Linked DNA regions of Homo sapiens: all the other regions are reported to be linked to region 1. The links are microRNA targets in miRTarBase. Many come from high-throughput screens and were not tested one by one. Region 1 holds a microRNA gene; each other region holds the end of a gene's coding sequence.
Evidence for each region. Region 1 holds the annotated microRNA hsa-miR-193b-3p (AACUGGCCCUCAAAGUCCCGCU, at 3,544-3,565, opposite strand). A microRNA usually pairs through its seed, bases 2 to 8, with sites in the 3' UTR of a target mRNA and lowers its output. Matches are read on the target gene's strand: a 7mer-m8 pairs with bases 2 to 8, a 7mer-A1 pairs with bases 2 to 7 and ends in A, and an 8mer does both.

Region 2: the mRNA of AUNIP is a reported target of hsa-miR-193b-3p. The part of its 3' UTR that is shown has no 7-base or 8-base seed match.
Region 3: the mRNA of CMTR1 is a reported target of hsa-miR-193b-3p. The part of its 3' UTR that is shown has no 7-base or 8-base seed match.
Region 4: the mRNA of HEATR6 is a reported target of hsa-miR-193b-3p. The part of its 3' UTR that is shown has no 7-base or 8-base seed match.
Region 5: miRTarBase lists BTRC as a target of hsa-miR-193b-3p. Seed matches in the 3' UTR shown: 7mer-m8 at 4,665-4,671.

Annotation. Positions count from the first base shown.
Region 1 is chr16:14,302,480-14,307,581 of GRCh38, reverse strand. MIR193B (microRNA 193b) reads right to left here and starts at 3,615; the gene lies at 3,533-3,615. All of the region lies in intron 1 of MIR193BHG (MIR193b-365a host gene), which reads right to left. RefSeq lists enhancers at 1-426, 427-1,112 and silencers at 3,475-3,524, 4,478-4,717, 4,623-4,783, 5,068-5,102.
Region 2 is chr1:25,830,814-25,835,915 of GRCh38, forward strand. It overlaps AUNIP (aurora kinase A and ninein interacting protein), which reads right to left. Exons shown (of 3, transcript NM_024037.3): 3 at 3,193-5,033. The coding sequence ends at 4,180. MTFR1L (mitochondrial fission regulator 1 like) reads left to right here. Exons shown (of 7, transcript NM_001099625.2): 7 at 1,108-2,125. The coding sequence ends at 1,213. Among named protein-coding and RNA genes, the nearest start is that of MTFR1L, 13 kb to the left of the region's middle.
Region 3 is chr6:37,479,285-37,484,386 of GRCh38, forward strand. CMTR1 (cap methyltransferase 1) reads left to right here. Exons shown (of 24, transcript NM_015050.3): 24 at 729-2,224. The coding sequence ends at 861. CCDC167 (coiled-coil domain containing 167) reads right to left here. Exons shown (of 4, transcript NM_138493.3): 4 at 3,654-4,005. The coding sequence ends at 3,902. Among named protein-coding and RNA genes, the nearest start is that of CCDC167, 18 kb to the right of the region's middle. RefSeq lists an enhancer at 1,199-1,899.
Region 4 is chr17:60,039,340-60,044,441 of GRCh38, reverse strand. HEATR6 (HEAT repeat containing 6) reads left to right here. Exons shown (of 20, transcript NM_022070.5): 20 at 308-3,434. The coding sequence ends at 879. It overlaps MIR4737 (microRNA 4737), which reads left to right and starts at 1,337; the gene lies at 1,337-1,417. RefSeq lists an enhancer at 4,280-4,574.
Region 5 is chr10:101,549,775-101,554,876 of GRCh38, forward strand. BTRC (beta-transducin repeat containing E3 ubiquitin protein ligase) reads left to right here. Exons shown (of 15, transcript NM_033637.4): 14 at 925-1,117; 15 at 3,381-5,102. The coding sequence ends at 1,086. Among named protein-coding and RNA genes, the nearest start is that of POLL, 36 kb to the right of the region's middle.

The DNA.
Region 1 (5,102 bases):
AGCTCCCAGGTGGGAGGCCTCACGGAGCTGGAGAAGAGACCAGCAAACACATGCACGGTAACTCAGATGTGTTATGTGTTGTCTTGCTGGCTGGGAGCTACGCCTCCTAGGCCCACCCCAAGTCGAAGGATCGCAGCCCTGGTGCTCGAGAGCAAGGGCTTGGGGCTGGGCTGCAAAAGCTCAGCTTTGCCTCTGAATCTTCTAGAACCACGTTTGCACTCACACAGGACAGATTTGCTCTGAGCCTGTGGGATAGCCTCATCTGTTCCCCTTTGAGCATTTGGAAAGCAAAGTGGGGTTCTGCCCTCGCCAGAGCCCACAGGGTCACCAGGCTATTAAACCCTGCAGAGTCTCTGGGGAGGCTGACTTTGAGAGCCAAATACCCCATCTTCTGGCTGAACTGCTGCAGGCTTCGTCTCGGGAGGAAAGACCCCCAGGCACCTGTCTGGACTTGTCTGGGCACCAGTAGTGGCTCTGAGGCCACATCTGGGCCTCGGCTGGCAGAGGTCTGGGCTGTCTTGGGCACAAATGCCAATGCCAACAGGCCCAGCACTGATCTCACACGATTCCAGCAAGAGAGCCTAGATTTTTGCACATCTCTGAGAAAACTGTCATACCACACCGCACAGCTAACCTTAGGCGCAACCAGCCACTAACTCCTCTCCCTGCCCAGGCGAAGTCCCCTTTGCTGCAGTGGGGCAGCATTTCAGGGACACGGAGAAAGAAGTTTGCTTTGTGGTTCCGTAAACTCAGACGGATGATATAAAATCAGAAACCTTATTTTAAAGCTTGGTAAATATGTGCATATGTCCCCTACAACTGGGGACGCTGGAAAGGCAGCATCTGAACACTGGCTGCTTTGAAAAGAGGTCATGAGAAGGGCAGAAGGGGTCAGCTGGGCATGGGGTGATGGAGGGAACCCCAAGTCCACTCCTAAATTCTTTCAACGTCCATCTCTTTCCCTGAAAAGTCGGCTTGGCTACTAGGCCTGAAAAGTATGTTGTTTATATCATGTTTGTGAGCGTCAGGGTTTATTTTCACCTGCTCCAGATACAAGAAGCAAAAAGAACTCTACATTTTTCTGTGTTTGGGGTGCTCAGGCGAGAAAGAAAATGCCTGCTTAAAGTAACTGATCAGCAATGTTTTGTTTGTACACGCACTTTATTCTGGTGAGTGATTTTAAGTACCAAGTTTGCCTTAACTTTTCACTGCACTCATTTTTATCCTCATGGCTAAAATAGCTGTATTTGCTCCACAATCAAAATTAAAGGAGGGTGAGCTGATCGTTAGGAGGCTATAGTTGATCTGGCAAGAATTTCCATCTTTCTGTTCATAACGTTAAGTTGGGGGGTTGCTGGGAAGGGAAACAGAGAGAGTGTTCCCTTGGAGGGACTTTTCCAACTTTCATTGGTTTGAATCACCAACATATATTTTATTTTTAAGGAAGTATCATATTCATTGCAGAACCACCTCTAAATATTTTACTCCTGGCCATACCGTATTCTTTTCTATTGAAACATCTTTTTTGCCTCTCTGAGATCAGCTATGGCTTGGGGATTGCTAAGAACAAAATTCAAAGTTGCTTGTTTTTTGTTTTTTTTTTTCTTAAATCCACACTTCTTTGGGGGTTAGCGGGGGTGGGGAGGGAACAGCAACTGCTTAATGAAGTTTCTCACACAGAGGCAAAAAGAGAAAAGCCAAAATATATTCAGTGTATCCAGCAGTTCCATGCTGAATTTTTTTTTTCCTTATTGGTTGAGGGGGGTGTGTAGGAGGGTGGTGGGAAGGATCTGAAAAGAAGCTGTGATTCTTTGCTGAATTAATGATGACTTCTCACTGCAAAATGCTGATTTATAATCTCTTCACCATACTAGACTGTTTCCAGACTCAGAGGGGGGTTAAAGTTTGTTAAATGTATTCATAATTACATGCACAGTTTCAGACGGCTGAATATAAGTAATGCTTGTGCTGTTGCGAATGCTCACCATTAAAGCAGAAATTGTTTCACATTTAGCACTAAATTCTGTCTGATTTTGCACACTTAACAATTCAGTAATTTTAACATTCGGCTTCGTCGCCTCCATTATAGCTCAGTATCTTGGAGAAACAGTCAGTGTTCCGGCCTCGTTAATTCATGTAAAACACCCTATTTGTAGAAGTATCATTAAAGGCTAATTTGATGAGATATCCTTATTTAGCAAAGCAAATAGGATTTGACAGTCAGCTCCGGGTGGCGATTTAGCAAAGCACAAACACAATTCACAACGTGACAATTTCCCATCCACGCGCCTCGCTGGAATTGTGGACTCCTGAAAATTGTGCTGTTTCATCGTGTCCCATACTAAAGAGAAAGAACTCTGGAAGTAAAGAACTGTTTTTGCCAAGGCAGCACAAATGTCATCTGTGTGTACATGTGCCATGTCTTTCAAATCCTAAATCTTGTATCAAGAACGCTGTGTTCAAAGGTTTTTTCCAGGTACAGCTCACTTTTCTATTCCCTGCTATGTAGACTTAATTTAAATCTAGACTTGCAAATAACTTAGGATGTGTGAAAGTCTATATAGGTTACAACTATATAGGGTGTGTGTGTGTGTGTGTGTACACACAACTGAAGGTTAATGTTCTGCGACGGGGATTTATACACACTACCCTTGCTTTAGAGACTTCCCCTGAACGTATTATCCAGCCTTCTATAAAACGCCTGGCTGGGTGCAGTGGCTCATGCCTGTAATCCCAGCACTTTGGGAGGCTGAGGTGGGCGGATCACGAGGTCAGGAGATCGAGACCATCCTGGCTAACACGGTGAAACCCCGTCTCTACTAAAAATACAAAAAAATTAGCCGGGCGTGGTGGCGGGCGCCTGTAATCCCAGCTACTCGGGAGGCTGAGGCAGGAGAATCGCCTGAACCCGGGAAGCAGAGGTTGCAGTGAGCCAAGATCGCGCCACTGCACTCCAGCCTGGTCAGAGCCTGGACAGAGCGAGATTCTGTCCCCAAAAAACAAACAAACAAACAAACAAAACAAAACAGAACAAAAAGAACGCCTTCAACAGCAAAGAGTTGCAAAGAAATGTTGCAATTCCAGGTGGAAGCAAACAGCTGGTTTCTCCTAATTTAGCAAACGTAAAGACAAATCTAATGTCGTTACAATTCATCATTTCAGGAGCGCCTTATTTGGGGGCTTCAAACACTTTGCCACAATTGACATCCTACTAATTCCTTTCCAATCCAATACTGTCCCTTAAACCACTGTGGGGGTGGTCAGGGGGAATGTACTTTCTCCTCCTTGTATCGTTTTTCGGCCTCCCAAGGAGAGAAGCCCTTGGAAAACACAGTAGGTTCGGCAAACTGAGAACACACACTTATAAGAATACCGCCCTCGAAGGGACCTTTTAGTTTTATGGAAAGTAGCAAACCTCCCCCTCTTTCCCCGCCCCCCCGCCAGCCGGGTTTTGGACGCGCTCCCTGGGGGTGGTAGCTCTCTGCCCTCACCCTCCCGAGACTGCCGGGGCCTGAGTCCCTCGCTGTCCAGAATGACCCCAAAAGCGGGACTTTGAGGGCCAGTTGGATAAAACATAAACTCATCTCGCCCTCAAAACCCCGATTCTGAGACCACAGCCTCCAAAAGCCTCTTTTCCCAAGAAGTGAGTCCCCATTCACGGCTGACAGCACCGGGGCAGGCCGCCTTTGAGGCAAGAGTTTGGAGAACCGGGATCACTGAAGGAATCGTTACTGGGTGTTCCCTCAGGGCGGCGGTTCATCTCACCAAAATGCCAGGGGGTCGCTGTGGGAGGAGGGGACATTTGCCACACCATGGCTGAGGGCAAGAGGATCGCTTGATCCCGGGGTGTCTCTTCCCTCCCGGAGCAATCACCAATCTCGCCCAGCAAACAGGCCTAAAAGCTTCCCGGACAACACGAGGGGTGCCCCAAACGTCCCTTAGCAGCGGATAAATCGGGTGTCCGAGGTGCCTCGTACAGTTCCCCCCACCCCATCTCCAGCTAAATAAAGTTTGGTTATTTGTGTCCTTAATCGTCTCTCATTAAAGTCAAATTTGCTGCGCGCCCAAGTTGGGGGAAATGATTTCCATTTTAATAGCTTAATTAGCCTCTAGGTTCTGGAAAGGCCACTCCCCCACGCACCTTTTCTCCTCATTTTAACCCCCCTCCCTTTTTCACAACTTCTCCTAAAAATAAATTATAAATATGGATGTGTCCTCAGAGGACATAAGCGGCGCATTCCAACGCTCCGCTTGGTGGGGATTGGAAGCAAAGAGAAACCAGAAACGCCACTCCCCCCACCCCCAAATCAAAATGCCTTTTTCTTTTTTTTTCTAACTTCTTTTTCCTAACTTGGTGTTGTCTCGGGCACAGACACCCCGCTCCGCACCCCGGAACCTAGTTTTTTTGCCCCCGTCCTGCAGAAGCTAAAGCCAACGCGCCAGGGCTGCCTGCTTCTCGGGGGGAGGGAGCTGACAACTTTAGGGGGCGGCGGTAACTCTCTGGGGACGGTGGTTCCCGGCTAGTCCGGGATCCCCGGGGCCCGGCCCCCGCAGGCGCCGCCGCCCATGCCAGCGGGGCTCGGGCGCACGTGGAGCGGCGGGCGCGGCCGGCCTGCTCCGCGCGCGGCATTGAGATCGGGGTCACGCAGCGAGTCAGTTTCCCGAGCGGGCTTTCCGGGGTGGGGGCGGGGACGCGGACGCTCCACCGCCTCGTCAATTTCCAAGCCCAGGCACTAGGGAGGCTGGGGGCGGCCTCGCCCCCTTCCTACCTCCCGGCTTCACACGCCCCTCTGGGGAGCGGGGGAGGGGTCCGAGGGGGAGCCGGGGTGGCGGCAGCGGCGGCAATCGCAGCCCAGACAAGCGTCTCGCGCCGAGTCCCGAGAGAACCGCGCGCTCCCCCGCCGCCACCTCCCCTCTCCCGTTCCCATCCACCCCGCAGACAGCCGCCCCACACCCCTTCGGCCCTGGGGGCTTGGGCACCCACCTGCCGCGATCCCTGCCTTGGCTGGCGGAAGGTGCCAGGCGGGAAGAAGGGGAGCACTCACCGCCGCTGCCGCCTCCGGGGGTGCACGGGCCCCCCCACCCAGGGCTGCGCCTTCCCG
Region 2 (5,102 bases), not on the chromosome of region 1:
GACTCCCTCATTGCTTCCTGGCAGTTGACCCATTTAGGGAAGTCACTCTTAACCTTCCTTCACTGGCCCTAGTCAGGTTGGTCATACTCACCCATATCTCTTTGGTCTTCCACATTCCCAAATTCAGTTGCTGCTGTTTTTGGTCTTCTCTGAGCTGTCTTCTTCTGAACAAAATGTTTTATAGGTTGACTCTCAAACTTTCTCTTACTTGCCTTTTGGACCAAATTAGATTCAAGACCCTTATTGCTAGCCCCCTCCTCCCACTTGTGTCCTCAGATCAGAAGGAGCTGGGTCAGTGAATAAGAATGGGAAAGTACCCCAGTCAGCAAAGGTTCAGATATGTCACCAACCAAACGCAGTCCCTCTTGTTTTTGCTTTGAAGGTTGAATAGTCAGTCTTGGCTCTTATATTTAGCTTAATCACCAGTAAAACACCTTCATGATGAATGTATATAAGTTCACTAGGATTTCAAGCAACTATTTTCCAGGTATCTAGGACCCTCTTATATGATGTATCAGATAACTTGGGCCTACTTCAGTCTGGAGTTGGTTTTGTTCCCATGAGTTTCTTATGTGAATGTTTTGCTCTAATTCTGGCTCTCATAAAAAATCATCTCCCCTGAAGGGGAGACCCGGTGGTAGGAAATCCCAAGCACACCTTTTCTCCAGAACTATCAAGGGTCAGAATAGCCAAGAGTCATCAGTCACTTCCCCTGCTGACCCTCTGGGGAAATGCTACTAAGAAAACAGGGCCAGAAGGCAGAAGCTTAGCCACCAGAGGCCAACTCTAACAGACTGATGGTCCTTTACTTTGCCCATACTTTATAGCTATTTCAGGAAATAGTAAAGCATTCTAGTTAATAGATGAGATCTGGAACCAGCTAGTTTGGTTCTGAACTCTGGATTCACCGCTTACTTGCTGAGTGACTAGTGACCTTGGGCAACTTGTATAACCTTTCTGTGCTTCAATTTCCTTATCTGTGAAAGGGAATTGTAATGGCACCTACCTCGTAAGATTGTTGTGAGGATTCAACGAGATAATGTATTCAAAAGATATACAGCACTACACAGGAAAGAGTAAGTACTCAAGCTATTATTGTGTCTCTAGGAACCGGAGTTTATTGAAGGAGGAAGACCCTGCTGTGCTTATCTCTGAGGTCCTAAGGAGGAAGTTTGCTCTAAAGGAAGAAGATATCAGTAGAAAAGGAAATTGACAACCCTCAGCTCTGCAAACTCAGTCTCATGCTCCTGGAATACCTTCAATAGCTGCCTTCCTCACCGCAGATGTTTCTGCCTCTTAAGGATAGATCTTCTGCAACAGTCTTGCTGACAAGCTAGAGCTTGGACTGAAAGAGAAGAGCTGGATTATATATTTCCCAGACTTCAAACCCTAGCAGAAGCTAAGGCTTGTGATTTGACCTGAGACATTTGTTTCAGGTAATCGTGTAGAATGAAGTATCTTAGTTTAAAGGGTAAGAGAGAAGTTGTTTCTGGTTTTTCCTTGCCCCTGTGTGAAAATAGGTCCTAAATGACTGACTTCACTGCATTAGACCCTATAGCTGGTCTCACAAGACACTTTGTGCCCAGCTGTCACTCACTCAGCAGCTTCCTTGCAGCAGAGCAGGGCTGAGGGGAAGGGGCTATGAATGTTTGTATACATGTTCACAGGGCACGGAAAATCTTATGCTGCTCCGTCATAAACCTACACCAATGCCCAGCAATCACCCTCCTCACTTCCTTGTCTAGATGTAGAGGTCAGGCTGCTGAACCAGCCAACACATGGGCTACTGCTGGGAAGCCTGGGCTGTTTTTTTTCTTAAACACATTTTATATTACTGAACAACCAAATCTACCCTCCACGGCCCTGAGGCCTTATCAGTTCCACTGATTAAAAACTTTCTCTTCCACGGACTTTAAGCCCGGTAGGAAAGAGAGAGGAGGAGGGGGAAAGAGCAAACCATCTTTCTTCCAGGCCCTTGACTGCTCCTTTGGGCTGGGCCAAGGTTTGTATGTACCACACCATGCATGACTCAGATGCCCTCAGGTCCCTTTCTCTATGGTATGTATACTGCTTGTGTTTGGGTTGAAGCACTACCTGACATTAAAGGAAGGACTTGGAGAGAGAATGCATTTGCTGTGTCCATCTCTTGAGTTGCGATTACCCAGTATCCTTCAGGGGCATAGGATTATTGTTAATTTTAAGGTGTATGAACTTAAACAGGCTACTGGCTTCTCCTCTTTCCTTATAAGGTCCTGCCCTTCTAGGGGGTTTCTTCCCCCTTTCTGTAGAGATTTTGCCCTATACTCTTTTTCTTTTTTTTAGAAACAGTATCTAGCTCTGTCATGCCGGAGTGCAGTGGTGGGATCATTAGCTAACTGCAGCCTCCAAACTCCTGGGCTCAAGTGAGCCTCCCACCTTAGCCTCCTGAGTAGCTGGGACTACAGGTATGCACCACCACACCCAGGAAATTTTTAAATTTTTTTGTAGCGATGGGGTCTTGCTATGTTGCCCAGGCTGGTCTTAAACTCCTGGTCTCAAGCAAACCTCCCACCTCAGCCTCCCAGAGCGTTGAGATTACAGACATGAGCCACCGCACTAAGCCCCATACATTCTTAAAAGCAGGTCTTCCAGGAAAATGACTGGAGAGATGACATACACGATAAAAGTAGAATTTAACATTTAAATTAGGCCAGGCACAGTGGCTCACACCTCTAATCACAGCACTTTGGGAGTTCAAGATCAGCCTGGGCAACAAAGCAAGACCTCATCTCTACAAAATATTTTAAAAATAATTAGCTGGGCATGGTGGCATGTGCCTATAGTTCAGCTACTCGGGAGGCTGAGGTGGGAGAATCACTTGCGCCCAGGAGGTCCAGGCTGCAGTGAACCGTGTTCATGCCACCACACTCCAGCCTGGGCAAGAGAGCGAGACCGTGTCTCAAAAAAATAAAATTTAAGTTAAAAAAAAAAAAAGAAGCAGTTCTCTTATAACCTTGCAAGTTTGTCCCTTAGAGGTTGTTTAAGCCTCTTAGATACCACATCAACAACAAGGAATAATGCCTTGGGTAGAAGACAGGTCAAACTAGACTCTGGTTCAGATCAGGCTCAGGGCAATGACAGCATATACTATTACAGTGTTGCCTTTTCAAAAATAAAATTGGTAATGGTTTAATTACCAATTATCACAAGAGCCACTTTGTAAACATTTATTTGGATTCATAGTTTTACAAAGGGGATTCCCTCCTATCTTGTGGGAAAAGGGTAACAGAGTCACATCCAGATTGTTGTACAGCTCAGGCTTTTTAAGGGAGATATTTAAACATAGAGTATATAACTTTAAAGTGCTGTACAGTTACCACAAAAATAAAATAGGAAACTAGCACCATTCTACCTCTCTTCTCTCCACACCTGGGTTGTGGGGAGATTTGCTAATCACTGAAAAAAAAGGGTCAAGAGTAATCATCCCAAGCTTAGGCTGATGTGGGTTAAGATCAGCCAGAGATTAAAAGCTCACACATCTGGCTGGGCGCGGTGGCTTATGCCTGTAATCTCAGCACTTTGGGAGGCTGAGGTGGGCGGATCAGGAGGTCAGGAGATGGAGACCATCCTGGCTAATATGGTGAAACCTCGTCTCTACTAAAAATCCAAAAAAAATTAGCTGGGCGTGGTGGCGCATGCCTGTAGTCCCTGCTATTCGGGAGGCTGAGGCAGGAGAATCGCTTGAATCCGGGAGACAGAGGGTGCAGTGAGCTGAGGTCGCACCACTGCACTCCAGCCTGGCAACAGAGCGAGACTCCATCTCAAAAAAAAAAAAAAAAAAACACATCCATAAGCAAGGTCCCAGTCAGACATCTGGAAGGGCAAAGAGATGGCTCTGTGCAGGCTGAGTAAAAGGCACTTTCATAGAGATAAATACCCACTGTGCTGCCTCAGTGTTCATCATAGACTCATTCAGGGAATTTACCAGCCACCACCTTCCTGAGGGAAAGCCATGATGCCAATCCCACTGTCTTAACAATGGTACTGCCCTTTATTTACACAGAGAAGATGCTCAGTAATGACAACTTCATCCCATGCCACCTTCCCACCTAAACAAACTCACTCCTCTCTCCACCCACAACTATATTTTCCTACATCTCTATCATTTCAAGGTACTTTTAGAAACAAAGCTTCAAACATTTAGAATTGGTGTCTGATAACTTGATTACCTTCAGAGTCCTGGGTAAAGAGCAAATCAGGCTTCAGATTTTGAGTTGGCCCATCCTCCTGGCACTGAGCCCAAGGACTGTTAGGAAACGGCCCTAAGTCCCAATTCCAGTTATTGGTTACATCTTGAAAAGGAGCTCTAGTGTTGTGGGCAATGACCCGCTGGCCTTGAGAATCTTCAGTGAAAAGTTGACTCCAGGAGTCCTTGTCATTCTTTTCATTGTCCCAGGAAAACACAGAAACTGGACTACGGCTTTGTTTCACTGATTCTATGTTTTCTCCATTCCAGGATTCCCTGTATGTTTGAAGGAGGACAGGGGCCTGCCTGTTTTCTTTGGCAGACACCTTTCTTTCCAATTTAGTCTTGCCTAAGGGCTGACAGCATTTGTCCCCAGGTAGTTTGGTGTGTTTCTCCATACTCTGATAGTTCTTCTTAGACTCATGAAGCCATTCCCATTTCCTGGCAGAATCCCCTTTTTCTTCCTTTCGGTCTAGCAAACAAGAACTTTCCAAGTCCTCGGTGAAGGAAAAAGCCAGTGGGGTATGACTATCTCCAGCACAGTCTGGAGTATCAGGCTGGAGCAAAGATAGCTCAGTTGAAAATGGGGTTTTCATTCTGTGGTGGCCAGAAGTCTGGAGGGACTGAGGAGAGAGTCCAGCTTCCTGGATGTCTGCAGTGGTTGAAGTGGCTAAAGGGGATGCCATGCAATCGTGTGCTAAGCCTGGGATCAAATGGTCTAGCTGGGTCGCATTTTTCTTGGACTCTTTGTTGATCTGACTTTCTGTATGAGATGAAACACTCTTCTGGTCACTGCCATTTGTCTTTCCTAATAAAACAGGAATGAACAAATATTATTCTGCAGAAAAACTGCCCTAAGCAGGATTCAGTTGGCTTT
Region 3 (5,102 bases), not on the chromosome of region 1:
CTTAGCAGCCTCAAGTACTCCTGCAGGATGCCAGCCAGCTGTCTTGGGGGCACACCCTGGGTCCTGAGACTGTTGCCCATGCAGGGGTTCCCCTGAGCACAGGCCTGAGAATACTTGTGGGGATGGCAGCCCCCTGCAGGTGTGGCTGGACCTGGGTAGAGCTGGTGAGGGAAGCACGATGCCTGGACCTGCTAATGGTTACGGGCCTGGCTGTGAAGGCCCATCTGGGCAGCGTATCCACCCCATGGAGCAGCCACGTTTCGGTGACATTCCAACACTGGCCTGATGGTGGGAACCTGCTGAGGGCCCACAGCCCTGCCCCTTGGCACTCAAGGTCCCAGCTGTCCCTCATTAGGACCCGGTGTCCATTAGTCAGACTGTTGGTCATAGGCTTCCCCAGCAGCCCTAATGTGCCTGTAATTAGCCACTGACATTTTCTGTCACCACACTACTAATACTGTATATTAGAGAAGCACAGACAGATAAGTCAGGAATATCAGTCACTGTAGGAATCCAGTTGGATGCAATTAGCAGCAACAGCTGTTTGTTGGGAAAAGTTGGTTCTGGGAGGCAGGGGAGTTAGGGCCTACCGGGTACCTTTTGCCTGCCGGGGGAAGAACCTCAACTAAAGTCATTGACAGACCCCTCCGCCCCACACCCTTAAGAACACATGACCCTGTGCCATCTGGGTGCAGTCCTGACCTCTTTCCCATCCCTCTCCTCCCCAGCATTTGCTACTATGGCCGGCTCTTCTGGGAGTGGGGGGATGGCATTCGTGTGCATGACTCCCAGAAGCCCCAGGACCAGGACAAGCTGTCCAAGGAGGACGTCCTCTCCTTCATCCAGATGCACAGGGCCTAAGAGCCTCAGAATGTGCCACCCCTGCAGAATGCCCTGTCATTCCTGAGATGGGGCCACCTGGGGCCCACAGTGCTGGCTTCTTCCCCCTCTTGAAAAGGGACTGGGGAGCATTGCACCTGGCATGAGGAGTGGGTGGCCTCCTCTCCATCCCCTGAAGAGCTCAGGCAGGGCCCTGCAGAGAACACTCATGTTCCTTCTGGGACACCTGCCTGGGAACTTTCCCCTGCCAGGACTCAGCCTGAAGGAAGCTGCTCCTGAGGCAGGTATGAGGTCAGTGCCTAGGGCACGTGGGACTGATGGAGGACATATCAGAGTGGCAGAGCTGTGGGCTCTGCTGTTCTCTCCTGCATCCTGTAGACTCACTTTTCTGAGTTCCATGCACTGCCCTGAGGGTAGCCATGCCCTTGCTTTGCCCAACTTTTTATTGGGCCATCCCTGAGTGGGTGGAGACCTGCTGTCATGAGCTGGCCAGGAGAACCTGCTATAAAAAAATCAAGGTTTTGTTTCTTTGAACTTACTCTGTTTTGATGCCAAATTGGAGACCATTTTCTTGTCTCCTTCCCCCACTCATCCTGGCCTTCCCTGGAGTTCTTCCTAGCCCAGAGCTCTGACAGTCCAGCAGGGTGGGAAGGAGGGAGTTTGGGCAAACTCTCATCCCTGATACCACATTGAGATCCTGGGAGCCCTCTTTTCGTACTGAGTATGGAGTTGTAGAGCCATCCTAGGTGCCATCCCCTTTTGGTCCAAACATTGGGCAGCGCTAGATGGCAGGAAGCAGCCTTGAAGACCCGTCTTTCCCCCACAGCAGCAGGGGCCCCAGCAGTAACAAAGGGTACCTCCAGGGGTTTGGGTAGCGCTGCCCTCTGGCAGTCATGCACCGCTGTCTGCCATAGCCGCTCTAGGGTCTTGGCAGAATTCTGAGCTTGAAGTGCAGCTCCCTTACTACCCTTTCCCTTCCTTTTTCTTCCCTAATAGGAGGTACAATCTGCTTTTGTTTGTCGTTAAGTGGTCACTCCCATTTCCTTTATCTTGGCCGACAACACAGAGAGGAGGGGGAGCTGGGCAGTAGCTTGGGGTGGGGGTGGGCACCTGTGGTTGTTTTTAATGGGAAATACCTCTCAGAGATGTTCATGCAGGCTCCCTAGGGCCCCATCCCAGTGCCAGGCTGGTTTCCATGGAGATAGGGCACTGAGGCTCCCGTGAGGTTGGAATCGACTTCACCATGGGGGTCCTTCAGCCAGCATCCAGCTCCCCACCCCCAGGCTGGCAGTAGCACTGCTGAGATGCTGTATTTCCACCCAATTCTGGGTATATCAGTGTGTCTTGCAGAATCTTGGATCATTAAAGATAAACATATTTTTAATGCCTGTGTGGCTCTGTGTTGGGGCTGCTGCTGTTTGTCCTCAGTGCTTTGTGATCTGAGACTGGCTTGGATGAAACAGCTTGAGCCAGAGGTGAAGGGGAAGCAGCTCTACTCAAAGCAGAGGAGAGAAAAGAGGGTTTGTTTAATCGGAGCCTGTTCAAGCTCTTGGGCACCTGCAGGGCTCCCAGGGCTGCTGCTTGCTGCTCAAGAGGGGGCTCAAAGAAGAGTTGGGGGAAATTGTGCAGCTCCTGTTACAAGCAGGGACTGCAGAATGAATGAACCCACAGCCCCGGAAGGGCAGAGAGGCACCTTCCCCCCTTACATAAATCACACAGCTCACTCCATGGTGGCACTGTGACAATCCAGGATCAGTCTGTGTGACTAAAATAACAGAGGCGTCAGACCAATTAGTGTCACTAGACTTGGGCGAAAGAGGGAGGGAGAGATAGATGGTTTCACTGACCCTAGCCTGCCTCCCCTCCAAGGAGGGCTGGTTCTGCCTGCACGGGACTGTGCTTGGGGGTGGGGGATGCAGATGCTGCAGGCACCTCCCTCTCTGTTCCCGGCTGGTTTCTCCACCAGTTAGTCATCGCCCTGGTGCTGGTTGCCCCCCAAAGTCCGCCTTCACTTTGCTGGACTTCCTCACTTTGGCCCCAAGAGTCCTTTGTGTATGGCCTTAGTTCCCTGGGCAACCCCATCCCTTGTTTTTCCTACTTAACTGGTTTCATCTCGGCCATCCACGCCCTTCCTCTGTTCTGCCTTGCTGTAGCCTCCCACCTGCTCCCCTCCTTATTCCAAAGCTAGGAGTTTTAGAGTTGGGGGGTGGAAGGGTAAGGGAGATGTCTGAGTTTGCTGCTCCTGCCACAACTCCCCCTCTGATCAGCCCCACCCCTACTTCTCACTACAAACCCTACCTGATTTACTGGCCACTGTCACCGTAAGTCTGTCTGGTCATTACCATGACTCTTCCTGCCCACTCACAGCCTCCCCAGCCTTGCCTGCCTGTCGAAGATGGATTAACTCCGCACTCCCCTGGGATCGCCACATGACCACTTCAAGTCCCCAAGCCGCCCTTCGCTGCACAGACTGCATTTTTTTCTGCCATAATTACAAGCAATGGCACTGACTGGAGGGCATGACAGTGTGTGGTGGGGGGATGGACAGGTGGCACAATGTCTGCTGCTCAACCCCAGCAGTGCCCGAGCCCTGGAAGTAACTCCCACTATTTGGCTTGGAAAGTGCTTCCCACTGTCTCCTTCCCACTCGAGCTGGGGGCCTTCTCCTCTATTCTGAATTGTAATCCAGAGCTTTCCCTTGAACATCTCTTCTTCCTTGATTCCTGAGTGCCGCCTCTGCTGCTGCTGCCTCTTCCTGCCCCCACCGTCCACCCTCCGCTAGTCAGACCATGACATTTACTCAGCAGACGGGAACAGCTTTGTGTTCTTTATTGCCTCTCCCTTGGGCTAAGGGAGGGACCAGCACCATGTCCTTCTGGAGACCCGGAACCCCCCAGCAGGCCAGGGAGGCAAGGCCTGGGCCGCCAGGAAGCCATGCTTGAACACTAGGTTGGGAGGGGAACACCCCAGCACCTTGGTCCTATTGAGGCTTGAAGTGCCTGCTTGATCCTGATCAAGGGGCCAAGTGGAAGCCTGTGCTGGTTGTGGGGAAGTGCCAGGCTCACATGGTCCAGTAGGCATAGACGAGCGTCAGGAGGATAAAGATGGCCACAGAGAGCAGCATGTTCTTCCGGTTCTCTTGCCGAAGAAACTTCAGTTCCTTCTCTGGGAGGAAAGAGGGTGATAGGGATAGGACAGGCAGTTTAGGCCCGTCTGTTCTGCTCTGCCTCTCCAACGAGTGGGTACACACTGCTGAGGGCAAAGACGCACCCTTCCAGCCACCTCCTTACCCATAAAAATGACTCTGCCCTTCTTAATCTGCCCAAATCCTGACACCCTTTTGGCTATAGAGCCAGCCTGATAAAGTCCCAACGCCCAGTGCTGCTCAACTATGGCTCTTTAAATGTGGTTGAGGTTGAGGGTGAGGTGGGTGAGGAGTCACCAAAAATGCCACACCTGAAAGCCAAGCTAGGAGGTGGTGTGACCGCCAGGTGAGTCTGCTTGCCTGTCATGGGGTTGGCTGTGGTGCTCATCCTTCAAGGCATCTCATCCGCCAACCAGAAACTGAGGGCACCTGGGGCCTCCTTGGGCCTGACAGTGGAGGAGGTGCTAGGTGGGGCCACGTGTTTCCTGAGTCCCTGCCCTCTGCCGGGTGCCTGGTTGAGCAGAATCTAGGGACGCTAAGATGCAGTTTGTGTCCATGAGGCAGCTGGTCTTGACTCTAGAGGAAATCAGTCCTGCTGCTCTATGGCCACACTTGTATCAAAGTATCCCCTCCAGGTGACACGCAGGTAGGGGGTACTCTGTGAGGGCTAAATTGAGTGGTGGTGTGGTTTTGTGTGAAAACCGCTAAACTTGAAGGGAAACTAATGTCCCATCCCTGTCTGTGCTGGGCAGTGGGAAGAGACACCTGCAGAGCTGCTCTGGGCAGGCCAGACTGAGTCCAGGGCCCAGGGTGCACCGGCCCAGACATGCTGAACTCCAGGCAGGGCTGGTAGGTGTGCACTGTGCCTACGGCATTCATCAGACCAGCGCTTCTGGGGGACTCCTTGCCATTAGAACCTTCCTGGGGCTGATTCATGGCCAGGCCTGGTCCCCCAGGGGAGAACAGAACCGACAAGTCTGAGGAGCACCTATAGACCGTGGTCCTCCCCAGCCTTTAGCAGGGAGCCCACCAGCCTGCCAGCCGCCCTCTGGCGCCCCGCCGGGCCTGGCCTCTACCTGCCTCTGCCCCCAGCGCCCAGAAGGTGGCGGCATCGCTC
Region 4 (5,102 bases), not on the chromosome of region 1:
CAGAATCCTCCCAGAGAAGAAGCCTTTTTCTGAGTCACCAAAGGCTTTATATTGGGTAGCAGAGGCTCTAAGCGTGTGGCAGGCTGAGGTAGGGAAAGAGGGAGGTTTGGGGATTGGCACCTGGCCACTTACCTAGGATCCTACAGTCAGTCACCACCCTTGTCTTACAGGATGATTGTGAGAATGAAGTGAACACATAAAATGAGTGTCTTGAGCACTAGTGTTTAAGCTTCCTTCCACCCCTCTCCCTCTCACCCCACCTAGTTCTAAGCCTGCATTTGTTTTAGTGACTGTGGATTCTTTCTAGGGACAGCCCCATGGACCTCCCAGGCCTACAATGCCCTGACATCGGTCGTGACATCATGCAAGAACTTCAAAGTGCGCATCAGATCTGCAGCTGCCCTTTCCGTCCCGGGGAAGAGAGAGCAGTACGGGTCTGTTGACCAGTATGCTCGGATCTGGAATGCATTGGTCACCGCTTTACAGAAGAGTGAAGACACCATAGACTTTTTGGAATTCAAGTACTGTGTCAGCCTACGGACCCAAATCTGCCAGGCACTGATTCACCTCTTGAGCTTGGCCAGTGCCTCGGACCTCCCTTGTATGAAAGAAACCCTTGAACTGAGTGGGAATATGGTCCAGTCCTATATTCTACAGTTTTTAAAATCAGGAGCAGAGGGAGATGACACTGGAGCACCCCACAGCCCACAGGAAAGAGACCAGATGGTCAGAATGGCCCTTAAACACATGGGCAGCATCCAGGCACCAACTGGAGACACAGCCAGAAGGGCCATCATGGGCTTTTTAGAAGAGATCCTGGCCGTTTGTTTTGACTCATCTGGATCACAAGGGGCACTCCCAGGGTTAACAAATCAGTGAAGATCCCACCATACTTTCTAGATGTCGAAGGCGGCAGTAGGAAGACCTGAGCTTGAGCATAAGATCTGTGGGATTTCATCTTAGGGGCAGAAACAATCCGTTCACTATTTATTTAGAATGACTTAGCAGCCATTTAAATTTTCACAGAGGGCTCAACCACCTTTGGAGTGACTCCATAGCACTGGCCATGGTCAGGGTTGTTGGAACATCTGACCTGTGCATCCAGGAGCCGAGGAGTCAGGTTGTAATACAGGCCAAGCAGACGGGCTTTGAGGGCATTTAGTCTCAGAAAAAAAAAATGTAGAAGGATTTCGGAATTAGAATTTTGTGTATTGTATCTGTAGTTTTGTAATAAACTAACGAAAAATAGTGTGTCCACAATCTCCTGTTGTTACCAAGTTGTATTTCTAGCAAGCTGCAAGCAGAGCTGCAGTTCAGCCAGTTTGTCCTGGCCCAGCTGCACAGGATGCGAGGATGCTGACAGTGCCTCACAGCCGCACAGGACCGAGGATGCTGACGGTGCCTCACAGCCACACAGGACGCGAGGATGCTGACGGTGCCTCACAGCCACACAGGACGCGAGGATGCTGACAGTGCCTCACAGCCACACAGGACGCGAGGATGCTGACGGTGCCTCACAGCCGCACAGGACCGAGGATGCTGACGGTGCCTCACAGCCACACAGGACGCGAGGATGCTGACGGTGCCTCACAGCCGCACAGGACCGAGGATGCTGACGGTGCCTCACAGCCACACAGGACGCGAGGATGCTGACGGTGCCTCACAGCCACACAGGACGCGAGGATGCTGACGGTGCCTCACAGCCGCACAGGACGCGAGGATGCTGACGGTGCCTCACAGCCACACAGGACGCGAGGATGCTGACAGTGCCTCACAGCCGCACAGGACGCGAGGATGCTGACAGTGCCTCACAGCCGCACAGGACGCGAGGATGCTGACAGTGCCTCACAGCCGCACAGGACGCGAGGATGCTGACGGTGCCTCACAGCCGCACAGGACGCGAGGATGCTGACAGTGCCTCACAGCCGCACAGGACGCGAGGATGCTGACAGTGCCTCACAGCCGCACAGGACGCGAGGATGCTGACAGTGCCTCACAGCCGCACAGGACGCGAGGATGCTGACAGTGCCTCACAGCCGCACAGGACGCGAGGATGCTGACAGTGCCTCACAGCCACACAGGACGCAAGGATGCTGACGGTGCCTCACAGCTGATGAGCTGCTGCTCCGAGCTTCTGGAGTGCCCGTGTTCCCCTGACCACCTTCCCTGCCACACCTCCCCACAATCCAATAACCAGAGTTAACTCCCAGCAAGCAGGGCCTTCTAACCTAGGCTACAACATTGACTTCTACCTACATTTCCTGATGCTCTTTAGGAGAATGTGATCCCACACACTAAATATATGGTTGTTTTGCCACCTTTTAATTTGTGCCTTTAAGAAAAGATCATTTGGTTAGTTGGTTACAAAGAGGGGTTTCCAATTATATTTTGATAATGCCCCACAAGTTATGAAGGTAACTTCTACTGAATATATATATTTAAATTTTGCATTTTTCTACTGAGCACCAACGATTTATTGGAATTGATTTCAATTAGGAATTTAGGGATATATAAGAACCAATTACAGTTGTCCATACTTATCTTTGATGTGGGACAATTAAGAAGTTACAAAAAATGGGTGTTGGTGATATTTTATCATGGTTATTTAGCTTAAAATACACGTGTAAAGGCAGGTGTCTTCCATTTTTCTCCTTTGCCTTTTAGCTGCTGTTTTCCTGCCTCTGACATGTTGGCTGCTCAGAAACTGCTCTCTGGGCAGTGATTGGGGAACAGGGTATTCAAGTTCACTAAAGGCTCAATTTTCCATTGATAGAATATCAGTGTCCACAGAATTAAGACTGCAAGCACAGCAAAGACACCCATATTGAATGTTCCCTTAAATTGCTTTTATTTGGAGACAATTCTGAACATGAAGTGTTATAGAGGGCCCAGGAAACTAAGTTGAGCCCACCTGACCCTGTGATGAATCTTGGAACTTCCGTCTCTTGAATACATTCTTAGTAGTAGCTTCTTGGCATTTTCAAAAAAGGAAAAAAAAAATATGGCATAGACAGCTTATTACTGTGATTCTTTGAGTTTTCTCAGGTGAGTTTTTTGATAAAATATTTGTGAAGTGGCCTCATGGTTTCATTTGATGATTCACTCTTATCCTTTCCTTATCTTGAATAAAATCCCATTCATTTTCTTTTTAAAACTTCAGCTTCTGTAAAGGTTTCCAGATCCTGATGTGGATGTTAATGTTCATGTGCAGGAAAACAATGAAGGCATAGCACCTCTAGAAACTTCAGAAGGCAGTGGTACCTGCTGTGTCCCAACAGTATGCTGATTCTCTTCTCTGCAGCATTGTGGGTGTACATACACTAAAGGACAGAAGCTCCTCATATGCCTGGGCACGTGCCTCCATAAAGCTGCTGTGGGGAAAGGAAGCCACTGACAATAAAGACAACTTAAGCTGATGAAAATCAGCACACAGCTCCACTGGTTCAGATTTCTAATGCAGAATGCCAGATTCTAAATTATCTTTTGACACTTAAAAATTGGGAGGAAGAGTCATCCAGGCACAGATGGCTAGGGCCCTTGTCCATTAGACTACAGCATTATGAGACGTTGCTTATCTTACTCTTTGAACCTTTTCTGTGACGAGTAAAAAACAAACAAACAAACAAAACATTAATTCCTATCCCCTTCCAGAACTCAAGAAAAGCGCCTCTTCTGAGGTTGGGTGCCATGGCTCATATCTGTAATCCCAATAGGCCAAGGCGGGAGGATCACTTGAGCCCTAGGAATTCTAGACCAACCTGGGCAATATAGGGAGACGGTCTCTACAAAAAAAAAAAAATTAAAAATTAGCTGGGTGTGGAAGTGCGCACCTATAGTCCCAGCTACTCAGGAGGCTGAGGTGGAGGATTGCTTGAGCTCTGGAGGTCAAGGCTGCAGTGAGCTGTGATCGCACCACTGCACTCCAGCCAGGGCAACAGAGTAAGACCTTCTCTCTAAACAACAAAAAAGGAAACCTCCTATGGAGCACCAATGCAAAGGTGTCCTTGATTTTGGTATTTGTGCTTGAATACAGACCATGAGCAAAAGCCTCACCATCTTTCCAGCATAAGAGCTAAGTAAATCAAATACTCTGGTTCATTCAGCCTTTGCTGCATTGATGTAGTGCAGTGGTTAAGAGCTTGGGCTTAAATCCTGGCTGTGCAGCTTTCTACCTGTGAAAGTTGCTTAACCCTTCTGTGCCTTATTTTATTCATCTGTAAAATGGGGATAAAAGTGCCTATTTCATAAGGATATTATAATGACTAAAATAGATAATACATAGAAAGTTCTTAGAACAGCTTCTGGCATTCAATAAATGTCAGGTATTTATTTCCTTGAATTTTCAGAGCAGCAGGCAGAAATACTGTCAACACATCATGAGCCTTTGTGATGGCAGTTAAACAGCTGGAATCTTGTAGGTCAGGTGCTAGCTGGCATGCCTCGGGAACCTGGATCAGAAAGATAAGCAGTGAGGAAGAGGCGCTGCTGCAGGACCTCTCTATCCTACTAGGAACAGCCCTCTGTCTAGCCCCCATGGGTCCCTCCCAGGAAAGAGAAGGGACTAGAAGTGGGAGAGGCCACACAAACTGAACAGGGAAGTAGGGGAGTAGGTCTTGGTTCTGCCTCATGACCCATCTCTGCGAGCCAGTCTTCAGGAATCACATCTCCAGCTTGCACACGCTCAGGAATTACTCCTGGTTTTAAAGGGCAACTCCTCTACTTAATGACTACACCCTTGGGCAGTCACTTGACCACTTATCTGTAAAGGGATACCAGTATCTCACACAGTTGTTCAGGAGTAGCTCCCATAATGTAAAGCACCTGGCTCGGAGCCTGGCATAGAGAGAGGGGCTCAGTGACAGATGGTGCCTCTTGTTACACTTTTCCTAGGTCTTCTCCCGGGGCTAGCATTTCTCTGCTTCTCATTGGAGTAAGATCCCTAGAGTGGGATATTGGAGAATGTCTGTCTGGTTCTAGTACACACCTTGAGTCCTCAAGCCTAGGCTGAAGGCATCCTCAGCTCCAGGAACATGGACATTATATTAGGGGTGGGGCCAAAGTCTTGGAAAATGAGCACTCATTCAATTACCATTTCCTTCCAA
Region 5 (5,102 bases), not on the chromosome of region 1:
TAGTAAGGGGTGTGAGATTGTTTTCCAGTATGCTGGGAACATTCTACATCTTCATCAGGGTGGTAACTGCCAGTGGTGTGCTAGAACAGGCTCATACTCACTTATGAGAGCCAACTATTAGATATTCATGAATTTTGCCAGCTGGTTGACTATGACTAGCTTATAATTGGCCATGATAGGAGTTTTTAATGCCGTGGAAATCTACCGATGGTTTTACAAAGTAGCAAAGTTTGGTTGATAAACATTTATCAGCATACTGCTTCTTATTGCTCACCAATCCTTGACCTCTGATTGTAGAAGGAACTTAGAAGATAAAAACCAGGGAGGTAGTAAGGAATGCTCTCATCCACCCTACGCCAAAAAGGGTTGGCCATGAGAAACTATTAATAGCATGCTATTTAGCATGTCTTGGCCAAAGAGTATTGCTTTGTTTACAGCTGCCTAGTATTTGACTTTTCCATGCTGCCTTTAGCCAAAGTAAATTTTCTCTATTTTTTTAATTTATTTATTTTTATTTTATTTTTTTTTTAGACAGAGTCTCACTCTGTTGCCCAGGCTGGAGTGCAGTGGAGTGATCTCGGCTCACTGCAACCTCCACCTCCCAGGTTCAAGCAATTCTTCTGCCTCAGCCTCCCAAGTAGCTGGGACTATAGGCACATGCCACCAGCCCGGCTAACTTTTTGTATTTTTATAGAGATGGGGTTTCACTGTGTTAGCCAGGATGGTCTCGATCTCCTGACCTCGTGATCCGCATGCCTCAGGCTCCCAAAGTGCTGGGATTACAGGTGTGAGCCACTGCGCCTGGCCTCTTTATAACAGCAAACCATAGCCTTTCCGTAGACTCCTTTTGACATGTTGCTGAATTTGTGTCCTATTGATTTTGAGTAGTTCAAGTTCCTACCCTTTTTGTTTCTACTTCTTTAGGAGCATTCCGGAAGAGTTTTTCGACTACAGTTTGATGAATTCCAGATTGTCAGTAGTTCACATGATGACACAATCCTCATCTGGGACTTCCTAAATGATCCAGCTGCCCAAGCTGAACCCCCCCGTTCCCCTTCTCGAACATACACCTACATCTCCAGATAAATAACCATACACTGACCTCATACTTGCCCAGGTATCGAAATCGATTATGTACATAACACTGTGGGTAGGAGACGGGATATTAGCTGTAAGGTGTTGCTAGTTCATGGAACTTTCTCCTGCCGTTTGGGTCACCAACTCCTGTAAAGCCGAGGAAGCAGACAATGTGAGACAGGGCTGAAGCTGCCACAGTGTGGACAGTGCCTTTCACCAAGGTAGCCAGCCTCAGTTCTAGATGATTCTAGGGTCCTACTTGTGTGGTAAGCCTAGTCATTCCTGCCCTAGTTATCTAGTAGTACTGTTATGAAAATAAAATGAGATTTGAATCAGTTTGAAAACTAAGTACTGTAATGACCCAAAGGCCTGTGATGTTTAAGTTCCCAGATCAAACAATACCTACAATAGAGACCTTTCAAGCCAAGTAAACAGTCTGATGTCTAATGTGTGAATGGAAACATCTCTTGGTGAAAGTTCACACTGACATATAAATAAAAGGGCAGATTTTAAAAGGAATATAAAAAGTAGCTTTTATATCCCTATCCCTATTCCTCAACCCTCCAAAAAGAGGACCTGTCTTTTGACCTCTGACCTCCACATGTCCTCCCACTCAAGTCTCCAACCTCTCTCTCAGGCAGGGGAAGATCCTAAAATACCCAGGTGGTCCATACATATTGTGGTATATTCAGATCATACCTGCTGTTCTAACCAGTTCGAATACACTAGGTTGTTACCAGTTTGAGAAGGCTGCCCTAGCTGCTGAGGAGCGTTGCTGTCAGGATTTGCCACGTGTGCCTCAGTTCTCGTGGCGGAAGTACATGTTCGCTACACGTTTCTGCATCTCTCTTTGCAGTGTTCCGCTGAGGACAGTGATTCACGCCCAGCTGGGCTGTCCTCAGCTTCTCTTTCTCTCACAGAGGACACGGTTCGTCGTTCCTCAGCCAGGTCGCACAGGCTGTGTGCCCTTAGACAAGTAACTTCCCAGACCCTGAATCTCTTGATGAGTAACGTGAGGGGCAGCACTCACCTCACGGAACCCTGTGAAGGCTGTGTGGAGATACTGCATGGAAAATTCCTAGTGCTTAGCACAGTGGCGAATACATAATATGCCCTCAGGAAAAACTGGTCATGAGTATTAATATTGCAATCTCCATATACCTACCCCCTCCTTTGCCCAAAATTTTCTCTTCCTTAGACTTCCGTGTTACTTTGCCATTTTTAATATTCTTCCTGACTCTCTGATTATTTGTGCTTCTTTCCCCCTCACTCCCAAGAGTCTGTTTCTGGCTTTTCTTATTATTTTTATTTTATTTTATTTTATTTCATTTTATTTTATTTTATTTTATTTCTTGAAACAGGGCTTCACTCCTGTCACCCAAGCTGGAGTGCAGTGGCACAATGTCAGCTCATTGCAACCTCCACCTCCTGGGCTCAAGTGATTCTCCTGCCTCAGCCTCCTGAGTACCGCGGGCACACAACACCATGACCAGCTAATTGTTTGTATTTTTTTTTTTTTTTTGGAGAGATGGAGTTTCACCATGTTGCCCAGGCTGGTCTCGAACTCCTGAGCTCAAGTGATCCACCTCCCTTGGCCTCCCAAAGTTACTGGGATTACAGGTGTGAGCCACCGCACCCGGCCTGTCTCTGGCTTTTCTTCCTTATCTGAGTTCCTTCTTAGGCTGCCTTCTCTATTCCCAAGGCTTCAGATCTCATCTCATTGTAGAAGACTCAAATTTCTGTCTCCAGTCCAAGCCTCTGCCTTAATCTCCAGGCCACATTTCCAGCTGCCATCCACACAGCTGTCCTTGAAGATAGCAAGAGCACTTCTAGTGCTCACATCCTCAACTGCACTGTCCCCTCCTTTACACTGCTGGTACCCTGCAGCCACACAGCCAGGCCAGCTTTCCTTGATTCCCCCACTTCTGTTACTGGCACCGCCATGCTCATGGCCACTCAAAAGGCAGGGCCCACAGACCATCCCCCACCCCTGCCCTGCCATTCTACAGGGCAAGTGAAAGCTATGCCAACCGTGGGCACTCTCAGCCTCAAGACATCAGAGTCACTCTGCTTGAACACCACAGCCCTGAGCATGTCAGCAAGCCCTGCCTTTAGTATAACTTCCCCCATCAGGCCAGGTCACCTTTGACAGAAGCTCCTGCATGGCATAGGCAGAGAGCAGGCATTAGGAAGGACCCCTAAGCCTTTTCCCCATTGGCAGCTAAGTGAATGTTCTTTTGTCTTCAAGCAAGTAAGAAATATCAAAAAAGGGGCTAATGACTATTTGCTCTGTTTTCACACAGGACCCATTAAAGTTGCGGTATTTAACGTATCTGCCAATACCAGGATGAGCAACAACAGTAACAATCAAACTACTGCCCAGTTTCCCTGGACTAGCCGAGGAGCAGGGCTTTGAGACTCCTGTTGGGACACAGTTGGTCTGCAGTCGGCCCAGGACGGTCTACTCAGCACAACTGACTGCTTCAGTGCTGCTATCAGAAGATGTCTTCTATCTTTTGTGAATGATTGGAACTTTTAAACCTCCCCTCCTCTCCTCCTTTCACCTCTGCACCTAGTTTTTTCCCATTGGTTCCAGACAAAGGTGACTTATAAATATATTTAGTGTTTTGCCAGAATCTCTCTTGCTTTGCCATTAAGCAGAAGAACTAGTTTCCCTGTATAGCCTGCTGGGAGAGACCCACTTCTAGGGTATGGGGGATGCAGCTTCAAGCCCAGTGCCCAGTGTCTCCCTGTTAACTGCAGGAATGCCAAGCACCTGGCCAGAGCAGCCCAGCCCCAATATGCTTAGGAGGAGACAGAGTTCCCTCTGTATAGCCTCTGGGACAAGAAAAAGAAAACACAAGAATGTATACACTGGAAGATTTGGGCCTCCTGCCTGCCTTCTCTTTGTTTCTGTTCCTCTTCCCATCTACTCCCCTACGCCCCTTCAACCTTTTTTCTCTGTCTGCTTCACCTGAGAAGAAAGTGTACGAAGAGAGTGTCCTCCTCTCACATGAGCCAGATCAGCCAGAAAATGCAACACTTGGAAGAGTTAAATGCTGTTCAGTGAAGATTTCAGCCCCAGGCCTTTGCTGCAAGTGACCCTGTGGCAACAGTGGATTCTCAGACATGATACTCTCATCATATTTGCAACTCTTCTCTCTCTTTCTTCCCCACACCCAAGAGGAGGATTGGTGGTAGGGGGCAGGCAGAGGGGGTGGGGAGAAGTTTCCTGGGCTCCATCAATGGCTGCATCTTTTCTGGACTCAGCAGTCTCCTTGATTCCATGTAGAGTGTGGAAAGGAGTTGCTGATTGCATTTCCTCTCATTAACAATTGGGTGTGTAATAAAAAGCATTGTACTTCATCTTAAATCACTGGTAAGGCTCAGCCTACAGAAAGATTTGAAATGGCCAGAGCCAATCGCTTGGTGCATTCTGCGTAATGGTTTCCATCTCCGATTTCCTCATCAGGGCCTGTGAATACCCAGGTGCCTGTATCTTTGCCAAGACCGTGATCAAGGTAGCTTAAGAGAGATGGTCAGGAGAAAACACTGTTTTTGTTTTTTTTGTTGTTTTGTTTTGTTTTGGCCAGTTAAATATCATCTCTCAAATATTGATCTCACCGTGTCAACCTTGCACTGCACAACCTTCCTTCTGCTTCTCCCACACCCAGTATTTGCAGAAGGGCAAAGCTGCTTAAGAGAGAGGATCAGGGTGAAGTTTGGCACACAGGGTTTATTAATGGGGCAAAAACTGCCTTTTCTTCCTCCTCCTGACCTTATTTTGCTCTTCACTCTCCCCAGCCAATAAAGCGTCTGTGGCGATTGGTGAACAGCATAAACAGCTGGACCTCAGCAAGGGTCAGGCAAACCCAGTCACTCGGAAGGCAGCTGTGTGAGCTGCCAAGCTAGTGGGCTTCAGGTGCAAGGGTACCTGTGCCACACCAACCTGGGAGCACACAGAATACTATTAATGTGCACCCAGCTGGTCTCCCCAGGCAAGAAGGTATCCTCTTCCCAAGGTG